Linked DNA regions of Homo sapiens. The protein of the gene in region 1 interacts with the protein of each later gene in a biochemical or structural test. Each region holds a gene or a part of one and is shown on either strand. Other genes may lie near its edges. The genes, in order: RIC1, RGP1 and RAB33B.

Evidence for each region.
Region 2: the proteins of RIC1 (region 1) and RGP1 form a complex in vitro, tested with the Homo sapiens proteins (one study listed by IntAct).
Region 3: the proteins of RIC1 (region 1) and RAB33B form a complex in vitro, tested with the Homo sapiens proteins (one study listed by IntAct).

Annotation. Positions count from the first base shown.
Region 1 is NC_000009.12:5,758,083-5,765,191, reverse strand, and holds part of RIC1 (guanine nucleotide exchange factor subunit RIC1), read right to left. Parts: intron 2,652-7,109; coding exon 2,532-2,651; intron 2,053-2,531; coding exon 1,324-2,052; intron 1-1,323. UniProt on the Homo sapiens protein: The RIC1-RGP1 complex acts as a guanine nucleotide exchange factor (GEF), which activates RAB6A by exchanging bound GDP for free GTP, and may thereby be required for efficient fusion of endosome-derived vesicles with the Golgi compartment.
Region 2 is NC_000009.12:35,752,287-35,759,194, forward strand, and holds the end of RGP1 (RAB6A-GEF complex partner protein 2), read left to right. Parts: intron 1-364; coding exon 365-588; 3' UTR 589-813; coding exon of another isoform or gene 814-994; 3' UTR 995-1,373; coding exon of another isoform or gene 1,374-1,482; 3' UTR 1,483-1,713; coding exon of another isoform or gene 1,714-1,843; 3' UTR 1,844-6,299; downstream 6,300-6,908. Other genes in the region: MSMP (prostate-associated microseminoprotein precursor), read right to left, coding at 814-994, 1,374-1,482, 1,714-1,843. UniProt on the Homo sapiens protein: The RIC1-RGP1 complex acts as a guanine nucleotide exchange factor (GEF), which activates RAB6A by exchanging bound GDP for free GTP and may thereby required for efficient fusion of endosome-derived vesicles with the Golgi compartment.
Region 3 is NC_000004.12:139,449,795-139,457,143, forward strand, and holds the start of RAB33B (ras-related protein Rab-33B), read left to right. Parts: upstream 1-4,326; 5' UTR 4,327-4,382; coding exon of another isoform or gene 4,383-4,401; coding exon 4,402-4,650; intron 4,651-7,349. UniProt on the Homo sapiens protein: The small GTPases Rab are key regulators of intracellular membrane trafficking, from the formation of transport vesicles to their fusion with membranes.

The DNA.
Region 1 (7,109 bases):
CATACATATACTTTAAGTCATTTCATTTATTTCTCCCAGTGACTCTGCAGATAGGCATATCATTTGTATTTTACAAGTGAGGAAACTGAGTTAAGTAAATTGTTGAAGATCAGCAGAAAAGGAAGAAAAAAAAGGGAGGTTTGCCTGACTCCAAAATAGGTCAGGTCTGTCTCCTGTTGCAGAGTTTTCTGAGGATGTGACTAGAATCTTTGCTTTGGGCAATAGCAAGTAGTAAAGTTCTGCTGCACATTCAGAATCCTCCATTTTTCTTTCACAAATTTAACCTGCCTATCTTGGTCTTTATGGAAAGGTGCCTAATAGACAACTGTAATTGTAATTATTATCTGCCAATCCATAGCAACTTAGGAATTCTGTTGCAGAAAAAAATTACATTGTCAGGGAGATACAGTGAAGTTGCAGGGAGTGACCCGGAACCAAAAAACAGCTGCATTTATTTTGATTCTATTTTTAAAACCCTATGTCTTTTTCTTTAGGGTTAGCCATGGAATCATACTTCAAGGCCACCTGGCCTCTGCTTGAGTGTCTCCTCTGGTTTCAGTTCATTGTCATGAAGCAAAGAAGCTGACAGGAAATCTGCTTCAGGCAGAGATTGAAACCAGGTTTATGGTTAGCTTCTTACATCAATGGAAACAACTTTGCAGTAACTGGAAAGAATCTTTAAGTGTAGCCTATCAAATAACCAACTGTCAAGCCCTTTTGTCAAATAGCTAATGAAATAAATTTTCAGGAGTTGCAAAGAAGCCATTATTTTGAGAAAAACTGTGTGCTATGAGGGTCTTTGCTGTGGCAGGCCTGAGCCTTCTCAGCTTGCTTTGGGGAAGACTAGCTCAAGGTGCTCTGTTATGACCATGCTCTAATAAGTGTCCCCTCAGTAACCCACACTGAAAGGAAACAAATCTACTGTTGTGAGAAGCTCAAACTCACTAATATCTCAAATAATACTTTCTTTGCTATGTTTCTTATGTAATATTTCAATAATCTTATGTAATATTTCTTCCATGTTCCTATTACATGTATTCTAATATACATATTAAATTTCTTCAATATATTAAAATTTCAAAACACTACTCTGAACTCATTAATCTGTTTTAGGCCTATTTATGGACAATGGAAAAAATATCTCTGCAATGTTACTTTATGATATTCAAAGGAATCTGTCTGAATTCTTCCAAATTAAAGATATAAACAGAAAATTTGACTATGAATTCCTTAAACACAATCATGGTGTCAAAACAGGACATTTCTATTTTTCTAAGTTTAAGCTCATTAATTCTTGCCCCTTTATAAGAAGAGAATTGTTACCTGTAAGATAATAAGGTAAGAGGCAGCTGTGTCCAAATCCTGAGCCATCAAACACTCCTCAAACAAGTCCTTAGGGTTTCCAACAGCTGCAAAAAGGTAATTCCACAGGGCATATTCGGTCTTCCTGGCACAATGGACAACTGTCTGCAGGAAGAGGGGGAACTCAGTGATAAATTTTGCCACAGTGGGAAGCAGAGGGTCGGGAATGGGCTCCCGTGAGGTAGCTTCTTCTTCCAGTACTTCATGGAGCATGAGCTCCAGCACATGAGGGAAGTAAGGTAATGTGGCACAGGACTGGGCCAAGAGCAAGGCTTGCTCCCCAAGGTTTCTGACCAGAAGTTGACGTAGAATGTGGTGGAGGTAGATCTGAGAGGTTCTCTCCACAACACAGAAAGGGAAGAGCACCTCCAGCTGTTCTCTAGCATTGTTCCGAGTATATAAAGAATCATAGAGCAAAGTGTCATTGACAGCACCAAGGACTAAAGCATCTTCAAACAGAACAGCTAGCGGGTAAATGTTGATGTGGAAAGGCAGCATGATCCGCTGGGACAAGAAGGAATGGGGCTTGCGGTGATCCCTAGGGAAGAGAGGGAGCCAAACTTTCATCCCTGCACCACCACAGCTCAGCCAGAGGGCCTCCAGAAGGTGACGTTTCTGTTTATTTGCTCGACACGTTGTCCAGACATTTTCAACAGACTGGGCTAGTACAACAGGAGGACAGAATGGCAGCTGGAGAAGGAGAGACAAGAATCAAGTTGTTTTCCTATTAAATCTGCAGGTTCTTAAGTTCCTAGGTACTAGTTTACTAAGTCTTTCAAATGATAGTATAATATTTTTTTGGGAAAAGCAAAGGGATCTAATTAGAATTAGAGTTAATAAAAGTATCCTGGCCTTTTAAAGTATATACACTTAAATCTGAAAACAAAACACCCCATGAACTTCACCAGTCTATCCCTATTTTTTCCATTAGAATTTGCAATGAATGATGCCTAAGCAGTTAACATATGGAGTATGGAACATTTCATGATCATTTTGGGACCTTATCCTCCAGTCAGTCAGTCTTACACCCAGAGGCTTAAGACTGATTTTATGGACTTAATTTCTCCTTTCCAAATCATAAAATACTCTTCTCTTAAATTGTTTCATTCCTTCATCCTCATCCCATACCTTCTTAATGTTTGAAAAGAAATGACTAGTACTTTACTCACAAGTTTCCTTTGGTTATTAGGGTTACTGTCCTTCTCCCGGATCTGTGGGCCTGACCTGTCCCTCTGCATCATGATGAGCTGTCCTGCCAGGTTTAACATAATGCTCTCTGCACCACGAGCCTGAAATTTAAGAAAAAGCAGCTAAATTCATACTTCTGTATCGGTATGCTTTCCGCATCTCCCCCCAATCCATAAGGTTTATAGGTCAAACAATCTACATTATTTATTGAGGTTGTACTATGTACAGCCATTCTGCTAGGCTCTGTGGGAATATAAGGAGCTTTCTGGCTAGGATGGTACAAAGCCTAACACATAATGCAATTAATGAACACCACCAGTGACATAAGATTGAGGGCAGAGTTGAATTATCCTGAAAAAGCTAAGACAACTTTAGAAGTTTATAAAAATGAGAGATCACTTCAGTGATCTAGCTGTCATAACAACAGAAAGTTTAAAAGGATGCAGTGAACCTGACAGATGAGGAAGACATACACGTGTGGGAGAGTAAGGGTTGGTAATCTAATGGAAAACGAAGACATGGAACTATTGGGAAAGTGAGAACAGTCTGGCTAGACTAGGGACATTATGAGAACAAAGCTGGATGGTAACAGACCTTCAAGGAGGATTCAGAAAGCCAGGTAAAAGAGCAGCAGGAAAGAAGCCACTACTTATGGTTCTTGAATAAGACAGTTATTTAAAAAATCAGAGTTAATCAGGATAGGTTACTGAGGAGAGGCAGATTTCATGGGTGTTGACTTCAGAAATGAGGAAATAGTCTGCCTTTTTATAATGAAAAATTTCAATCAAACCTCAGAGAGCCTAGTATAATGATTTCCAATTGAGCCCTATCACGCAACTTAAACCATTATGCACATTAAACTTTGAGCAGCCCTGTTTTAAAAGGAACCTCAGATATCAAGTCATTTCTATCTGTAAAGAGGAAGGAACATTTTGGTTAAAAAACAGAACTTACTGCTATCCTAGACATGAAAGGTAGAAAAAGAGATGAACCAAAGATGATTTCCAGGTTAGCTGAGGTGCTAGAGAAGTTGAAGTTATTATCACTGATAGAAGACAGGAAGAGAAATTAGGGAAGGGAAAACCAAAGAGTTTCCCTTTTTCTTTTTGGCTCATTTAATTTGAAAAAATAAAAAAAAATTCTTAAGAATTCCAAGTAAAAATGTGAGCAATCACTAAATCAGAGACGACTGTACCAGCATCAGAAGCTTAAAGGTGAGGCTGGGCCAGGCTGGGCGCAGTGGCTCACACCTGTAATCCCAGCATTTGGTGGGAGGCTGAGGTGGGTGGATCACGAGGTCAGGAGTTCAAGACCAACCTGGCCAAAATGGTGAAACCCCGTCTCTACTAAAAACACAAAAATAAGCCGGGCGTGGTGGCAGGTGCCTGTAATCCCAGCTACTTGGGAGGCTGAGGCAGGAGAATCACTTGAACCCGGGAGACGGAGGCTGCAGTGAGCCAAGATTGCACCATTGCACTCTAGCCTGGGTGACAGAGCAAGACTCCGTCTCAAAAAAAAAAAAAAAAAAAAAAAAAAAGGTGAGGCTGGTAAACTGAAGGAGACAGACAGATGTTTCTCAGGCACACTAGCCAGGGTAAAAAGAGCAGCGGGCCATCACCTGAGCTTTTGGAAGACAAAAGAGAAATAGGGAAGCACAATGCTATACATGCTATATAAACAGAAGGAAAGAATTTCAGGGAGGAAAGAGTGAGTATTCAAAACTTGTGGGATTGTGTCCCAGGCTTTGCTGCATGCTGGCTGGCTGAATTTAAGCTACCAATGATCATTTAGGGTTCATCAAGAAAACAGCAGCCACCCTATATATTCTAGTTGCAAAATACTTGGCTATACAAACTACTCTTGCTTACTGCTTTCAGATTCTACAGGGGATTATGTATAAAGAAATGACTAAATAAAAAAATTGGTTATCTATCCAGAAAGTAATTTGGAGGTATGAGAAGTGAACATGGAATTTAGGTGTGTGGCAACTAGAAGAGTCAGACACCTGGATAACAGTAAAATGTAGCTAGATGGCAGAGGAAAAAGAAAAAGACAAACACCTGCAGCAAAACAGCATGACTGGGAACTGCATACACTAAAACACTTCAAAAGACCTTAAAGGCATTTACTGTAATTCACCACAATATGAGTAATGTTTATAATGACTACCTTAAGTTTTAAGATGGTAGATTTCACCACATTTCATACTAATTCATTAAAAAAGTACACTTCTCTTTTCTTCAGTGAGTGGGTATTATCAGTATCCTATCTTAGTATTCAACACTTTCTGATAACGTTAAAGATGACTGCAACAGCACTCTCAAGCAACTTTAATAAAGCTTTCAGAAAAAGCAAGGGCTACATGTATGCCCAAAATCCTAAATTTGAAGGAACCCCAAACTCAATCTCTTACCCTAAAAAAACCCCTGGCAGATGATTCTCTATGAGAGTTTCAGTAACAAGGAGCTCACTCTCATGGAGAGACTATCTTGCTGTTGAAGAGTTTTCACTGTTACTACTATTTTTTTTGAAAACTTTAGTATTAAATGAAAACTTACTTTGCTCCAGCATTCTTTGTCTTCCCTCTATGGTAATCAGTCAATTTTAACTTCTTAATCTGCTCTAGCCAAATTAAGCACCTTCTCTTTGTGAAAGGCCCTCTCAAAATATGGTATCCAGGACTACTGATGCCACTGGTTGCCTACTCTATCTGGGATATATAAGAGTCCTTTTTTAAATATGAAAACTTTAAACATGATTAAAAGTATGGAGAATAGTATAATGAACTTTCACACTGCCATTATCCAGATTCACAATTATCAAGATTTTGCCTTATGTGCTCCATCCATCCCTTATTTTTTTTTCAGTTTTGTCAGAATATTTTCAATTAAGACATGCTACCCATTTTACTTCTACATGTTTAATATGCATTCCTAAAATATATGGGCATCTGCTAACATAGCTACAATGCTAGTATCACATCCAATAAAATTTACAATTATTCCCTACTTTCTCTCTCCATTAGTATTTAAATATCCCTAATTGTTTCAACAGTGTCTTTTCATAGCTGATTTGAATGAAGATACAAATGAGCTTACTGACTTGGTTCTGCAGGGTAGTGATTATCACATTTGCCTCACAAATGACTTTTAACCACTGCATTTGGTTTTTATGGCTTCAAAGTCTTATTTAATCTAGAAGATTCACTCCTTCTTCCCCCATGTTAGTGACTTGTAGCTGTCCAACAGAATGTCTTGTATTCTGCTCCCTTGTGGTAGGGAAGATGACTCTCTATACTTGATTTGATTTGGGTTCAAGATTTTTGGCAATAATTCTTGTGAACTTCATGTTATATCACCTCAAGAAGCATACCATATCTGGTTTTCCCATTTTTAGTGATAAGACTGATTAGTTCCTCAGGACTGCAAAATGATTTTTAAATTGTCACTTTTTTTCACACCTTTTATCTAAACTTCTGTAAAACAGTATATTCCCTTATCAATTAGGACTAACTGGTTACCATTAAATAAGGTTTGCAGAGGAAATGGGAACTATATTTTAAAGGAGAAAACCAATTTTACCTATAGAAGGGAGACCAAGGCCGAGCACGATGGCTCACGCCCTTAATCCCAGCACTTTGGGAGGCCGAGGTGGGCAGATCATGAGGTCAAGAGATTGAGACCATCCTGGCCAACATGGTGAAACCCTGTCTCTACTAAATATACAAAAATTAGCTGGGCGTGGTGGCGTGCACCTGCAGTCCCAGCTAGTTGGGAGGCTGAGGCGGGAGAATTGCTTGAGCCTGGGAGGCAGAGGTTGCACTGAGCCAAGATTGCACCACTGCACTCCAGCCTGGCGATAGAGTGAGACTCCATCTCAAAAAAAAAAAGAAAAAAGGACAAAAAAAAAAAAAAAAAAAGAAGGGAGACCAAGATGCTTAAGGGGTCTAGAATAAACATCCAATGAAATAGTTGGACATATGGAAGTATTTAGCATGCAGATAAGATGACAGAGAGGTTTGAGGAGAGAAGGAGAAGCCAAGGAATGTTAACTGTCTGCAGATATTTTACGGGTCATCATGTGGAAGAGGGACTAGCTTTTACAATGTCTTCTACAAAGAATAGAGAACTGGGATAGAAGGTAACAAAATTGATTTTAGATTCATATAAGTAATATTAAATTCCCCATAACTGGATAGTCTAGTCTAGTCTGTTTTCTAATTATTTTATGGAGTGTTGAGGTTTGATCGAAGTGCCTCGATAGGAAGTAAAAGACAGACTGCCCAGACAGGGATGACAAATAAATCCACATAGAATTTTCCTCTGACAGTAGGTTCCCAGTTGACATGAAGTTTAGAAACCACTGAAATAGAAAGTTATGCAACGTGGGTCCTGGTCGCCCTACTTCTTACCCTGTTACTTTACCCAGAAACTACGGGATTATACTTTCTCTTTCCTCATAATTAACTAATTATAAAGCCCTTGCTATTCTATACTCATTCTACTTCTTTCCATATCCTTTTTCACTGCCCAAGTTCAGACTGTGAACACCACTGACCT
Region 2 (6,908 bases), about 30 Mb from region 1:
CCTTCAACCTCTTCCTGTTTCTTAGATGCACTGACCCCTAAACTCCTAACAGCTTGATAGAACTCCTTCCCCACACCTACCTACTAGGACCCTGTGATACACTGATTTTTGATTACTTCATGCTACCTAGACTTGACTGCCTCACTCTTAGGTTATTAGGTACTTAATACTGCTATCTTCAGCTCACATCTGTGGTAGTACCCATTGCTTCAGAAAAACCCTTAATCACAGCTCCCTGCCCTGTGACTTTTCCCTGTCTTCCTGAACACAGATTGTTTTCTTCTCATTCACTAACTATATCCTGTCATTGGCTTTTACTCCTGCTAGCTTCTGATGCTTCTACCTTAATCTTTTTCTTCCATAGTGTCCTTGAAGTGGAGATTGCATTTTGAATTTGTAACGTCCCGAGAACCAGGATTGGTACTCCTACCCCCTGTGGAACAGCCCGAACCTACCACCTGGACAGGACCTGAGCAAGTACCTGTAGACACCTTCAGCTGGGACCTGCCCATCAAGGTGCTGCCTACTAGCCCCACCCTGGCCTCATATGCTGCCCCAGGCCCCAGCACCAGCACCATAACCATCTGAAACTGGCCCACCCTGGTGCTAGTTCCTTCCGGATACTGAGAACTCAGCACCTGGACTCTAATGGGACCCACTTTTTCCACCTGGGGTCCAATGTCGTGGACAGTGAGAGTCGGGCTTTCAGCTATAGCATTAATTTATTTGTTCAGAATACATTGGCAGCTGCTAGTGGTTTCCCTGGAAGTGGCAGCAGCAGTGAGCAGTCAGCAGATGGATGATCAGTTGAGTTTAGCTGGAGTGGGGAGCAGGAGCCCCAGGAACAGGGGTGTTGGCTGAGCCCCATTCTGGGTCAGGCCCTCCCCCTTTGCAGGGCAGCCGAGGGTCAGATTTTTGCACCAAGGAGAACTGGCAGGTTCCTGCCTCCTGACGTACCTCACACCCAGCCGGGAAGTCGATGGGATGCTGGGACCTGGGGAACCAAGGATAGGGGAAGGAGTCAGCACAGTGAAAGGCTGCCTTTATCCCTGCCCACATGTTCCCTCTCTCACAGTTTTCCCCCCACAGAGCCCCTTTCAGTGGCCCCTTGGTCCTCCTAACTAAGCTGTCACCTACCATATGTGGGCCTTTTTGTTTTATAACAGGAGTATTTTCTCTCCAGGTCCACCCCAACCTCCCCTGATTTATAGCCTGAAGCCTTATCTTTCACACTAGTGTTGGTCCCTTCAGGTTTGGCCCATCTTGTATTGCTCTTCTGTTCATTCTTACATCACAGCAATCTAGTCACTCCCTGGTCATCCCTCAGTCACTCATATCAGAGTCATTCTCTCTGGCCATCTTTGGTCACTCACGTGTCACAGCAGCCCACGCCAACAGGATGCAGACAGGTGCAATGGAAACAGTCCTTGCGGAGCCAAGACTCACCCAGGGTAAAATATTTCCCCTCATAGTGACAGGGGGCTAGGGAAGAACGGGAAATGTTAGTAGGTGTAGGAGTGCTGATGAGAGGCAGAGGCTCTTCTGGTCTGGGGTGGAGACAGTAAGTACGCACTATCCCCGTATTTAGTTTGTCTTTCCTGTTTCACAGCTGGAGGAAGCCTGGGTATTTTGACACGGGATCATCTGTAAGGCCCCATCCTCCCTGTGCCCTCTCTGCTGCTCCTCCATTCCTAACGCTTCACCCCACTTTACCTTGAGCTTGGAAGTAGCACTTGCTGTAGACTCCTGGGTGCTGGAGGAGTAGAGACATCACCAAGCAGATGATCCCCCAGCCTCCTAGGATCCCCTTGGCCTGTCCAGCCCAGAGCATCCTTAGGGCCATTGCTGCTGCACAGCCCTCTCAGACCCTTCTTGGCCTCTGCTCAGCTACTCTGGTCTTGACTCCTTGACTTTGCTTTGCGTTGCTCCTTGAGTCTTAGTTTCTGTCTTTCTCCCCTGGGCTCCTGTCTCACACTATCTCCCTGCCCTCTGCTCTCACAGGCTGGGGATGTTTATAAAGTGAGGACCCTGGCCCCCTGCTGAGTAGAGCTGGAAAAGTTGTAACTCTGTTTCCTGAGGTGAGGGCATGAAAACAAGAGGTCTAGCTTTAACAAGCTGTGAGAGCTGATTCATGCCCCGGCACAGCTAGAGGGAGGGAGGTGGCCATGGAGGGGGCACTGGACTGGGCACTTCCCCAGCAAGGAGGCAGGAGGGGCGAGGGCCCCCAGGTGGTCCCCAGATCTCTTCCCTGACCTGGAGAGAAGGAAGCATTCCACCTTCCCCCTTTCTCCCCCACTGCCACCACCAGGGGTGTGTATGCTGGGATCCCTGCCTGGACCGGAGGGAGGCATTTCCTGGGGATGGTTAATCCTGTGCCCCAGCCAAACCCAGGAGCTGCAATAGGGTGCGACGGCCAGAAGCTCCAGGAGAGTGAGCAGGCACCTGGAGTGGAGACTGTGTTTCCCTCAGATCCTAGGGCAGGGTTTCCCTAATGTATCCAAGAAATAGGGCTGCCCCTCAGAGATGGTGGGGAGGGTCTCTTTTCCTCAGGCATTCCAGAGGTGAACTGTCCATTGCTTATCACCTTCAAACATACAGCAGATGTGGGATCACCCCACATCTGGGGATGGTTCTTTCCCCTTTCAAAGAGGAGCATCTCTAAGTGCCCTGATGGGATGAATCACTCCAGGTTCACAGAGGTGTCCTCTCTTTCCTCCCATATATAATGGAGTGAGGTTTTTAGGAATTTATCATTTGGCATCCTCTGAGTTTCCCACAGGTTCTGGAGGAGCCCAGGATGGATTATTGAGAGCATGGGCTGTAGAGACAGTCTTCTTGGATTCAGATCCTGACTCCACTTAGCTATGTAACCTGGTCAGATTACTTCACCTCTCTGAGCCTGTTTCCTCATCTATAAATTGGGGATAGTAATGCCAACTCATTGGGCTGTTATGAGGATTACTGAGATAATGCGTGCAGTGCTCTTATCACCATCTCTGGTGCGTAAGCGTCAGGAAATAGCAGTTGCTGTGATTGGGGCTAAAGCTCTGAGGCAAAATGGGCGACATTATTTTCTTTGAATGACATTAAGCAGTTTGTGCATAGCTGAGGGCTTCTATTGGGGATGGCTGTCTCCTGGCATAGACCTCTGCACCTTTCACACTCATACTCCTTGTCAGCAGTCCCCAACCTTTTTGGTACCAGGGACCGGTTTTGTGGAAAACAATTTTTCCACCAGTGGATGGAGGGGGATAGCAGCGGGGAGATGATTTTGGGATGAAACTGTTTCATCTCAGATCATCAGGCATTAGATTCTCATAAGGAGTGTGCAATCTAGATCCCTTGCATGCGGAGTTCACAGTGGGGTTTGCACTCCTGTGAGAATCTAATGCCTCTGCTGATCTGCCAGGAGGAGGAGCTCAGGCGGTAATGCTCACTCGCCTGCCGCCCACCTCCTGCTTTGTGCTCCCGCTTCCTAACAGGCCACAGACTGGTACTGGCCTGTGGCCTGGGGGATGGAGACCCCTAATCCATGTCACCTTTCCCACCTCTTTCAAAAACAGGTACCTCCAGGAACATTTTGGTTTTGGCCCTTGTATTGACTTCTGAATGTCTAGTTTGAGAAACTGTTCCCAATAAGCCTTCTTCCCCCAGATCTGCACCCTCGCCTCTACCCTAGGACAAGATGTCCTTTTCTCATCATCCTGCCAGGCTAACTTTAAGTCTCCTGCTTTTTCTCACTTGGATTTGGATCCATTTCTTCCTATTTCCGCTCATGTGAACTCTCCAGTTCTCCTTTCTCACCACTCTCCTGCTAGCCATCTCTTTGGCACTAAAGGCCCTGGTCAAATTGGATTTCTTTCATTTTTCCACACTTCAAAGACCCATGTTCTAGGTATTCTCCATAGGGATAGTCTCTTTGGCATTTATTTGGTTTTTCTACGTTTTCAGTCCCATTTACTCCAAGACTCACTCCCTGCCACCTAGTGCATCAGATACAGCTACTTCTGGCTGACTTTTCAAGGGGGACCACCCTACCTGTCATCTCTTCACTGTTCAGAAATGACTGTGTCAGTGCACCTCAAACTCCCTTGCTGTCCTTTTCCAAGGAGACAGCTAAGGTGGATGGAGATGCAGAATGGACCTCACGTTCGCCCTAGTCAGGACTGATACCCTTTCCGTTTCAGAGGATTGCCAAGAAAAAACTCACAGTTGAGGCAGGGTGCTCTGAGGTCGGCTGCGGTGTGGGAGGCACGGCCTGGGCCTGCTCTCTGGGCTGGAGCAGGTGGATTCGAAGGCCTGTCTAGCACGAGGGCCCAAAGGTCTTGTCAGTGGCCAGTAGCTCTGCCGCCTTTCCCAGAGAGGGGGTCCAGGGGACATCCTGGAAGGCTGGGCCCTGGGCCACCTTCTGCTCTTGCAAGCTAGAGCCAGCCCAATAGGGGGCGGATGTGAGTGGGGAGCTGGGGCGCATGAAGGTGGGGGTGATGCCGAAGGGGAAGGGATCGCCAGTGGGGATTGGTGCGTGTGCGGAAACGGGGACAGAAGTGAAGGTTCATCGCCTATAACGAAGATGAGGTAGGCATATAGGGGCTTCTGGAAAGCTAGAGGCTGGGCTGAGCCAGGAGTCCTCTCCCAGAAGTTGGGGGGCGGTGCAGAGGTGTGGGTCGAGCCCGCATGCGTGCCTGCTGGGGAGGGGGTGAGTGGTGAGGACCAGGCCCGCTGGGTCCTGGGGGCGCGGTGGCTGGCGCGCAGGTCCCGGAGGGGGCGGCTGGCGCGCACTACACGCTTGGGAACAAGGAAAACATCCGCCGGAGGCCCGGCCGGGCGGCGCTCCAGCCTCGGGGCAGGTGCGCGGAGAGGAAGTGAGAGCATTCCGGCCCCCCCACCCCAACCCCGGCCGCTGGCCCTCTGGTGAGTCACAGCCGACCCCCGCCGCCGGAGGGAGAGGGGAGCTGCGGGCCAGAGCCCCGGAGGGTCTGGAGGAGCCAGGAGGGTTTCTGGGAGCAGAGGGTCACTTAGTGGGCTTCTGTCGTGGTGTCGCTACGGGCGCGAAACGGACACTGAACACAGTCTGACTGTATGGAGGCAGGTGGGGAGGGATCCCCTGGGAGAACTTGGCGGGCCGAGAGCAGACCCCAGGGCAAGGAGGGGCCCCCGAGGGGGAAACCGGGAGTCGGGCAGGTGGCGTAACCCAGAAAGGGAAGGAGAGCCGGATTGATTGGGGTGAGAGAGGAAGGAAGCACGCCAAGTTAGGCCTGGGAGAACTGAGGGACCTGAGGAGGGAGGAGGGAGACCAACACAGGGTGGGAAGGCGGAAATGGCCAAACCCCAGGCATCAGGTCTGTCCAGAGGCTGACGTAGACAGTGAAGGGTGAAGGGTAGGTTTTAGGAGTAGGGGGAGTTATGATTATTTGGTTACATTTTGGGATTATTTGGTCTCACAGGTAGAAGGGAGCCTGCTGGTCTCTGTGTAACGGATGGCTTAAAAGCAAGGTTGTCTGCGTCTTGGATTACTGTCTGCCATTCAGCCTTTGCCAAAAAATTTGGCACTGATCTGCACATTTTTATAGTCATTTAAAATTGTATGACTCTGTCAAATGATTTAAGTAATTTTGGTGGATTTTTAAAAATAAAAAAATAAAAATAGAAAAGTTGCACAATCTAATTCAATATTTGACTTAAAACCAAAAGTGAGGCTCTCAGATTGGTAATATGGTATTCAGCCTTTTTCTTGTTTGGCTTTTGTGCCATTTGCCCCTCACTGACTTGATTGAATTCTTTGTGGCTGATGCCTCAGTTTTTCTGGATCAGTAGTGCTGCACTTCCACTTTTCCTCTCCCTCATTTTACTGTCTTTATTTTTAGCCTTTTTTCTGTGTAGCCCTCTAACCTGCCCTTTATATTTTGAACCAAATAAAACATTTCTTGGAATGGGAGCTTTGGACTACAGTATACAGACAAACAACTCACAATTTTAGCATATGAGGCTACTATCTTCTGTGGATGTGTATGTAATTATACAGTTTCTGTATTTATCCTGTGGCTGATAGAAAAAGTTAAAGCTGTTTAATTCACCATAGTATTTCTACAACACAGCAATTTATTAGTCTGACTTCTCTTCTAAAATCAACTCTAAAATGGTATTTTGTACTTGTCTCAGAGACGAATTCTGCCATGATCCTTATGATCTGTGTTATGTTGGGCCAAAGGTGATTACTTTATAAATTATAAAGATCCCTAAACTCTGCATTGCCTTTGGTCCCAAACAAGCAAATCTGGGTCAATTAATGAAAAAAAAAAGAAAAGAAAAGAAAATGTCTTACTTTGGGCCCTGTTGCACTCTCCCGTGCTGTTTTAGCCCCAGCCCTACTCTATTCCCAGTGGCCTTTGCCTTCATTCCTTCTTTGCTCTGCTGGGCATCTTGAGAGGAAAACTTCACACCGACTTCCTCTACTATAAATTCTCTCCCTCCTCTCAACTCTACACTTCTCTTTGCCAACATACACCACTACTGCTTCACTGATTTTTTTTTTTTAAGCCCACAGTCCTTTCTGGCTCTTTTCCACCTTTAACACTCTTATGTTGAAATCTTCCGTTTTTCCTCCTTTCTCTTTAGTAAGACCTCAGGTTTTTAAAAAAGCTAGGCTTGATTGTTTATTCTGCATGGTCCACTTCTGCCTTCCTTCCTCTTCTATTACCCTTTTCTTATTCTAGACTGTTTTTAAACTCAGTTATGCTTGCTTTCACCAAAGCCTTAACCTTTCCTGTGATTAGAAAAAGATGCTTATGTTTCCATTACTTTTCCTACAAGAAAACGCATTCTCAAATTCATATCCACTTCAAACTCTCCCAACGTTTTGCATCCAGAAGCATAAAGTGGCCATTATTGTGAAGTCCACTGAGTGACCA
Region 3 (7,349 bases), on another chromosome or scaffold:
CTCTAGAGAACCTGGACTAATAAAGAGAACGAGATAAAAGAGGAAACAACAGAGGCCATGATTGCACTTTTTACATATATCAAATATTGGCAAGTCTGCCATCCTAGCTTCCCATCTGCCTACAAGTGGGCAGAGCCATTTTTAACCTTTCTTACTGTGAACATACTTCAATTCACTTAGAATTCTTGAAGTCCAGGCCAAGCACCTCTAGGGTAAAATTTAGCATTCTGTTTTATCCAGGTGTTCACTAACGGTTCCATATTAATTTGCTTCTGCAGATAAAGTATAAATTCCTCATGGGCTAAAATCACACCTTATTTTGTATCTTCCCCTTGCACCAACCACTAGCATAGTACTGAGTACATAGTTCAAATGCCATTAACTCCACAGTGATCCTACCTATGAAGATATGACTTGAAGAATTCTGAAACTCATTAAGCTAACCTATACAAGGATACTAATTTACTATTTATATACTGAAATTAAAGCCCTAGTATGATGTCTGGGGTTACCAAACACAGTGATATAGTAATTTGGTGGAGGCCAGCAAGGCCAATGCCATACTTCTCAGGGTAACTGGAATTGTGTCTTCAAAGGAGAAGTAATTCCCACTATCAACTGGGAGGTACAGGGTATCAAACTTGTGAGAAGAGCCCTTCTGTAGGCTCAAGGAGTGCCAGTGGCATTCAAGGAGGAGGGAGGGAGAGGATTTTTGTCCCCAAGGGGCATCTAGCAACATTTTGAGACAGTTTTGGTTGGTGGTGGGGTGCTACTGGGATTTACTGGGTAGAAGCCAGGGATGCTGATAAAATAAACATCCTACAATGCACAGGATAACCTTCCACAACAAAGAATTATCTGACTTAAAATGTCAATAGTGCCAAGGTTGAGAATCCTTTCTTTCATAGGCAATCAAGGGAATTCTTTGTCCTCTGTGCTCAGACCTGAACTTAAAGAGTAAAATTATCTAAGAGCTGTTTCTGAGTAAGACAAGTTACGAAATGGGCACTGTCATCAGGAGGTGGCATATCTAGTTAAAAAAAAAATTCAGAAATTGAGTAGTCTTATTTTGTATATAAGATTATCCTTATGCTATTCTGTTTTCTACTTTTTTTTTTTTTTTTGAGACACAGTCTTGTTCTTGTCCCCGAGGCTGAAGTGCAATGGCATGATCTTGGCTCACTGCAACCTCTGTCTCCCAGGTTCAAGCGATTCTCCTGTCTCAGCCTCCTGAATAGCTGGGATTAAAGGCACCTGGCACCACGACTGGCTAATTTTTGTATTTTTAGTACAGATGGGGTTTCGCCACGTTGGCCAGGCTGGTCTCAACTCTTGACCTCATGATCCACCCTCCTCGGCCTCCCAAAGTGCTGGGATTACAGGTGTAAGCCACTGCACCCAGCCTGTTTACTTTTATGTTTTAGAGATGGGGGTCTCGCTGTGCTACCCAGGCTGGAGTGCAGCAGTGCAACTATAGCTCACTGCAGACTTGAACTCCTGGGCTCAAGAGATCCTCCAGCCTCAGCCTCCTGAGTAGCAGGAAGTAGAGGTGTACACAACCACACCCACTTTTTTTTTTTTTTTTTTTTTTTTTTGGAGACAGGAGGTCTCACTCTGTTGCCCAGGTTGGAGTGCAGTTTTGCGATTTCAGCTCACTGCAACCTCCACCTCCCTGGTTCAAGCGATTCTCCCACCTCAGCCTCCCGAGTATCCGGGATTACAGGCATGTGCCACCACACCTGGCTGATTTTTGTATTTTTTGGTAGAGACGAGGTTTCACCATGTTGGCCAGGCTGGTCTCAAATTCCTGGCCTCCAGCAGTGCTCCTGTCTTGGCCTCCCAAAGCGTTGGGATTATAGGCATGAGCCACCACACCCAGGTACTACTGTGTGATTTTAATATCCAATGTTTTTTCTTCTATTACAAAAGTATCTTTACATACTTATCTTACCCTAAGCCATTGAAATTGTTCCATTTTAAGTTGTACTGACAAAGGATCCAAATTTACAGTTTCTGCTCAGCTGTGTAGCAAAGTATTAAGGAAAGGGTTACATGTTCACACTTTGAGGCCAAGTGGTAGTGACTCCAAGGACAAAATGAACAGTCAAAAAACAGGGCTGTATAATCCATCCATTCTTTCCAACAGTAGAATTTCCTCCAATTATCAATTCTGGAGATTCTGGGGTTATTCAATTAAGAAGAGTAGCACATACTTCAGTCACATGAGGACACTCTCAAAATACAAGTTGAAAATACAAAACTCCTCATAACAATGTCAAGTGCCAACAATGATTTTTAAAATTTAAGTAGGGCTGAACTGTGTGTAACTGGTGAAATGTTCAAGTTAACAATCCTTACACACGAAATCTCTCACTTCACTGACTTAATTCATTATTTGCTGAATAAACAATAAACTTCCAGTCAGTAGTCAAGAGTTGGCAATCTAGCTGGTAGGACATAACATATAATCATGAAACAGCAAAAACAGTATTCAAAGATTAAATTAGCAATACCCCAAAATGTGTGTTAGAGTTAGCATAAAGAATTTCTGATGTAGTTTACCAAGAGCTAAACTAAAAAGTCCAGAATACAAAAAACAGGGATGCAATGATGTTAGTTTTTTTCACCATCCTTGAAATTCTCCCATTAACCACAGCTCTGAGTTTTCAACTGCTCTTTGTCCTTAAATCTTCAGATTCCCTCCTTTGAATGGGATAGGTAGAGCAGATTAGAAGAAATATATTCCGAGGCTCTCTAATAGTTTCTGGATGATTAACCTTCATGAAAATAACCTCACAGATAAGTAATTAGGATTTTTCAGCCCATTTCTATAAACTAAGTAAACTTTTTTTCTAGTGAACATAACTTGATATATTAGTGACTGTAGAAAGTCTTTCTACAGCAACAGGAATTATATCAAGGCTTTTGCAAATTCCTGGCAACTCCGGGCATGTTTAAGTTCTACTACTCATCTGTTCTGACTATATTTTCATCTGATGGAATAAGCAGTTCATCTCCTTTCCTAGAACTTTTAGTGCTCTACTGTCCCCCTCACTTTAGTTAAGGTCTGCCATGTCCTCCTCTCCGACAGTCCTTGACTTTCCCAATGGCATATTCATCTGCTCAAACAGATGTCACTGCAAAACAAAACAAACTTTTAACAAAAAGCAATGTTTGCATATTTGGGGCCTTTTGTATGACAATATTGCACGTTTCCTCAGAAAAATTCACGGAGATTCTTTAAGGTTGGGGGTTTAATCTATTGATATTTTCCTTAGGTAGACAAAGACAACCTCTAAGTGCGCTCAGTTAATCTTTAACCGCTACATCATCGTCACCCAGGCACTAAGACATAACTAGGGCATAATGAGTTTTATTTCCACCAGGGGCGCCTAGTAACTACCAGGTTCAACGCTCCCAGGTGGCCGACATGTGATGTGCTCTACTGTTTGGGCTGGGGATATTAGCTCAACAAACTCTGGCCACAAGGATCACGCGGATATTCTTGGGGATGCCTAGCGAAATGCGCTGTACCTAGGCCTCGAACTCTCGCCTGCTCTCCGGTGGGCGGTCTCGAACTCCAGCCTGCTCTCCGGCAGCCCACAGCAATGCGCCTGCCAAGACCTTAGGCTGCAAAACTCGCCACGGCCCAGAGCTCGCCTCCAAGTGCGCCCCGCACAGGGCAAGCTTTCGGCGAGGACTCGCGTCCCACCCATCTAGCCCTGGCCGCTGTCCCAACTCCCGCAGTTCACAGAGGCGGCGGCGGTGAGCGCAGCCGATGCCACATCCTCAGCGGCAAGCTGAAGAAACCTGTCTCCTCTCTGGGGCGACCAAACGATACGTCGATGCCGGAACCGACCCGACGCCGGAGCCGTCGGCTCCGTCCTTACCGTTGCTCTCCAGGTACACGCCCCCGTCAAAGGCGGCTCTGCGGCCCTCTCGCGAGAGAGTGCCCGTGGTACCTCCTTCCTCTCAGTTGTCTGTCTCTCCCCGCCCCCGGAGTGATTGCGCGGCTTCCTCCAGAGGGCGGGAACCTTGGACGTGGCGGGGCTGGGTCAGTCAGGGCGCTGGGCCCAGCCTCTCTGCAGGCTGGCCTTCCGCGCTGCCGTGAAGCCCCCGACAGGTCCCACGCCTGCCTAGGTAGACCGGCGCCAGCCCGAGTGACGCCTGGCGTGTGGCCGCGGGCAGGCGGCTCCGTGCGGCGGGGCGGGCGGGTGCCACACCTGTGCGGGCAAGGGCGGGGCGGGAAGGTGCGCAGGCGCGCTCGGGGCTGGTGGGCGGTGGCTCCTGGGAAGTTGCGCAGCCGAACTGGCCGGCTGGGCGCGCGCTCTTGCGGTGGCGTAATCTCTCAGCCTTTCTGTGTCTCCTTTCCTCCGCCTCAGTTTGGGGCGGGTCGGGGGAATGGCTGAGGAGATGGAGTCGTCGCTCGAGGCAAGCTTTTCGTCCAGCGGGGCAGTGTCAGGGGCCTCAGGGTTTTTGCCTCCTGCCCGCTCCCGCATCTTCAAGATAATCGTGATCGGCGACTCCAATGTGGGCAAGACATGCCTGACCTACCGCTTCTGCGCTGGCCGCTTCCCCGACCGCACCGAGGCCACGATAGGGGTGGATTTCCGAGAACGAGCGGTGGAGATTGATGGGGAGCGCATCAAGGTGAGCGGATGGGGAACTGTTGGGGAGGACAGGGTGACAGGTGTCCCAACCCCACCGTGGGCTGGTCGCTGGCCGTGTGCACGGTGTGTGTGCGCTCCATTTTTTTCTCACGCTGATGAGATTGGAGTTGGGGATTGGAAGGATTGCAATACTGCAAACTTCTAAGGCAGCGTTTCTCAGACTTCATTGTGCATGCGATTTACCTGGGGATCTTGTTTTTGAAAATGCAGGCTATGATTTAATAATCTCGCTGATGATGCAGGTGCAGCTAGTCCGTGGACCACACTTTGAGTTCAGGAGTGTAGGGCTTATCTACCGACCCATTTACTGTGTGTGTCGTGTGCTGGGAGTCAGTCAAATATGAACGGAGGAAAAACAGTGAAATTGCGCGAGAATGGAAAATTCATTTAATCAGTAATAGTTATTAAACATTCATTCGAGCAGTGCCTTAGATGTTGTGGAAGTAAAGCCTATTGCCTTTGAGGAAGTACTTAGGTATTCTCTTGCATACAGTTTTGCTGTAGTAGTTTCTTTATGATACTGATTTTAGAAAAATCTATTTTCCTGCAGAAACATTCTATATGTGATAGTTCCTACTCAGGTTGCCAAAAGCATTTCTCATGATGCCACCTCAGACACACGCCCAATTCTTTATTCCCTTTAAGTCGTTATTTTTGGTCCCTGGGACTGGGGACACTGAGTGACAGTAATAGTGGAGAAGGTAGTATAGGCCCCAGGGCAGGTTTGAAGTTCTGAGGGGTTGGAATCTAACAGTGGAATGAGGATCAATGACAAGGCTTAGGCCTCTTGATGGTATAAACCTTAGACACACCTTCATAGCAAGCCACCACTAAATGCCACCTGTTGATGCCACTCCTTAAAACATAGGTGGAACCACCTTGCCTTATACTACTGCTTTAAATCAGCGATCGTCTTTATCTCAGTCTCTTGGTGGGGATGGGGAGTGGTGGGAGAACAGGCTTGCTTTAGACGTTCCTACCCTCGTATCTTAGAGGCAAGAACAATTTATTTTTCAGTTCCCTAATCATCGCCCCCCACCCCAACGGGTTATACTGCTAATGATGGTAGAGGTGAAGTAAGCTGGGTTAAAAGAAATTAACCTTTCTTTGGTGCTTCTGTCTTTTAATTTTTCACATTAGTATTTCATGTCCCATATGAGCTCTCAGTGGTGGTTTTGGAGTTGCTTTGTATTAGGGAATTTAGAAAGATTTGTATACTTGCAGAAGAAAAGATAGAATAAAAGGCTAAACATTTTTCACCAGAATTAGGTTTGGCCCAGAAGCCTTTGGGGTGAAAAATAATGGAGCTTCTGAAGTTCCAAGGGAGTTAAGATTGGGAGAAGCAGGAATCTGGGAAGTACGTGGGCTTTGGAGCCCAACTAACCTGGATTCATATCTGAACCTACGAAAGGGTAGGGATGGGCTGCGTGTCCTTACTAGGGTGACCAACTTTGCCCAAGACTGTCCAGGTTTTAAAACTGGGTCTCACATCCCGGGGACCCCCTGTATTGGGCACACCAAAATAGTTGGTCACCCTGGACCTTAGGCAGATTCTTTAACCTCTCAGAGTCTGTATTTTTCTTCCGAAAAACTGGGATCATGATACCTTATCAGGCTGCTGTGAGGATCAGATGAGGACATATATGAAGCACCTGGTTCATAGTTGGTGCCTTTAAAAAGATTCTTTGTCTTTCCTGGTGGCTTAACATTATTTTTCCTGTTTGCCACCATTAGTTCTGCAGTTGTACACCCAAAGTTGAAAGCAGAGATAGTGGAGGGCATAGGTAGACAGCTAAGGGGAGAGAAATTTAAAAAACAAAACAAAAACAAAAACGGAAGTAGGAAATTCTTTCAAAAGTGGAGAGAATGAGGGTGGGGGAGGAGTTGGGATTTGAGGGCCCTTTATCTGTTCCTGGGTTGCCATTTATACTTAAAGATAACAGATGAATCAGGTGCAAATTTAAGAGATAATAGTATTGAAAAAATATAAAGCATGTGCAGTGTATAAAGTCAATTACCTAACTACTGAGGTGAGTGCTGGCAGTGATAAATAAGACAGAACCACAGGTATGACGAATCTGGGAGCACAGAGTTGATAATTCTGGTTGGGAAGAGCAAGGAGATGATATTTTTTGGGGAGATTATTTCTACTGAACTTTAGCCTAACTTGTTACATTGATATGGACTTGAATACTGAGATCATTTTTCTTCTAAGGCCCTAGCCGTTGATTTGTGCCACCAATGGTGAGACTTGAGAGAGATTTTTATTGTGGTTGAAATGACTACAGACATGTTCTGAGGTTTCTATAGTAGGAAAAGATATAGCTATGTTGGGCATTTTTTAAAACCACAGAGCTTAATTTTTTTTAGTGCCCTTTTTTTCGAAAACTGAAAAGTGATATAAAGAGCTTTATTCTATGTGCTGCTTCTGCTGCTTTTTGGTTAACCTGTAATACATCTTGAGTGCTGCTGAAATGTTCATATTACGTCTTTGGAAAATTGTAGCCTGATCTAAAATGACATTTTTCCTAATTTTTCATCTCAAAGCTGGAAAGCTCTATTACTTTACTAGTAAAATGCCATTCTAGACATTATTTCTTTGATAAAAATGAGATATTGCGTTAAATGTTTTGATAATCATGGACTAGAAAATTTTCAGAAAGCATGACTTAACAACAG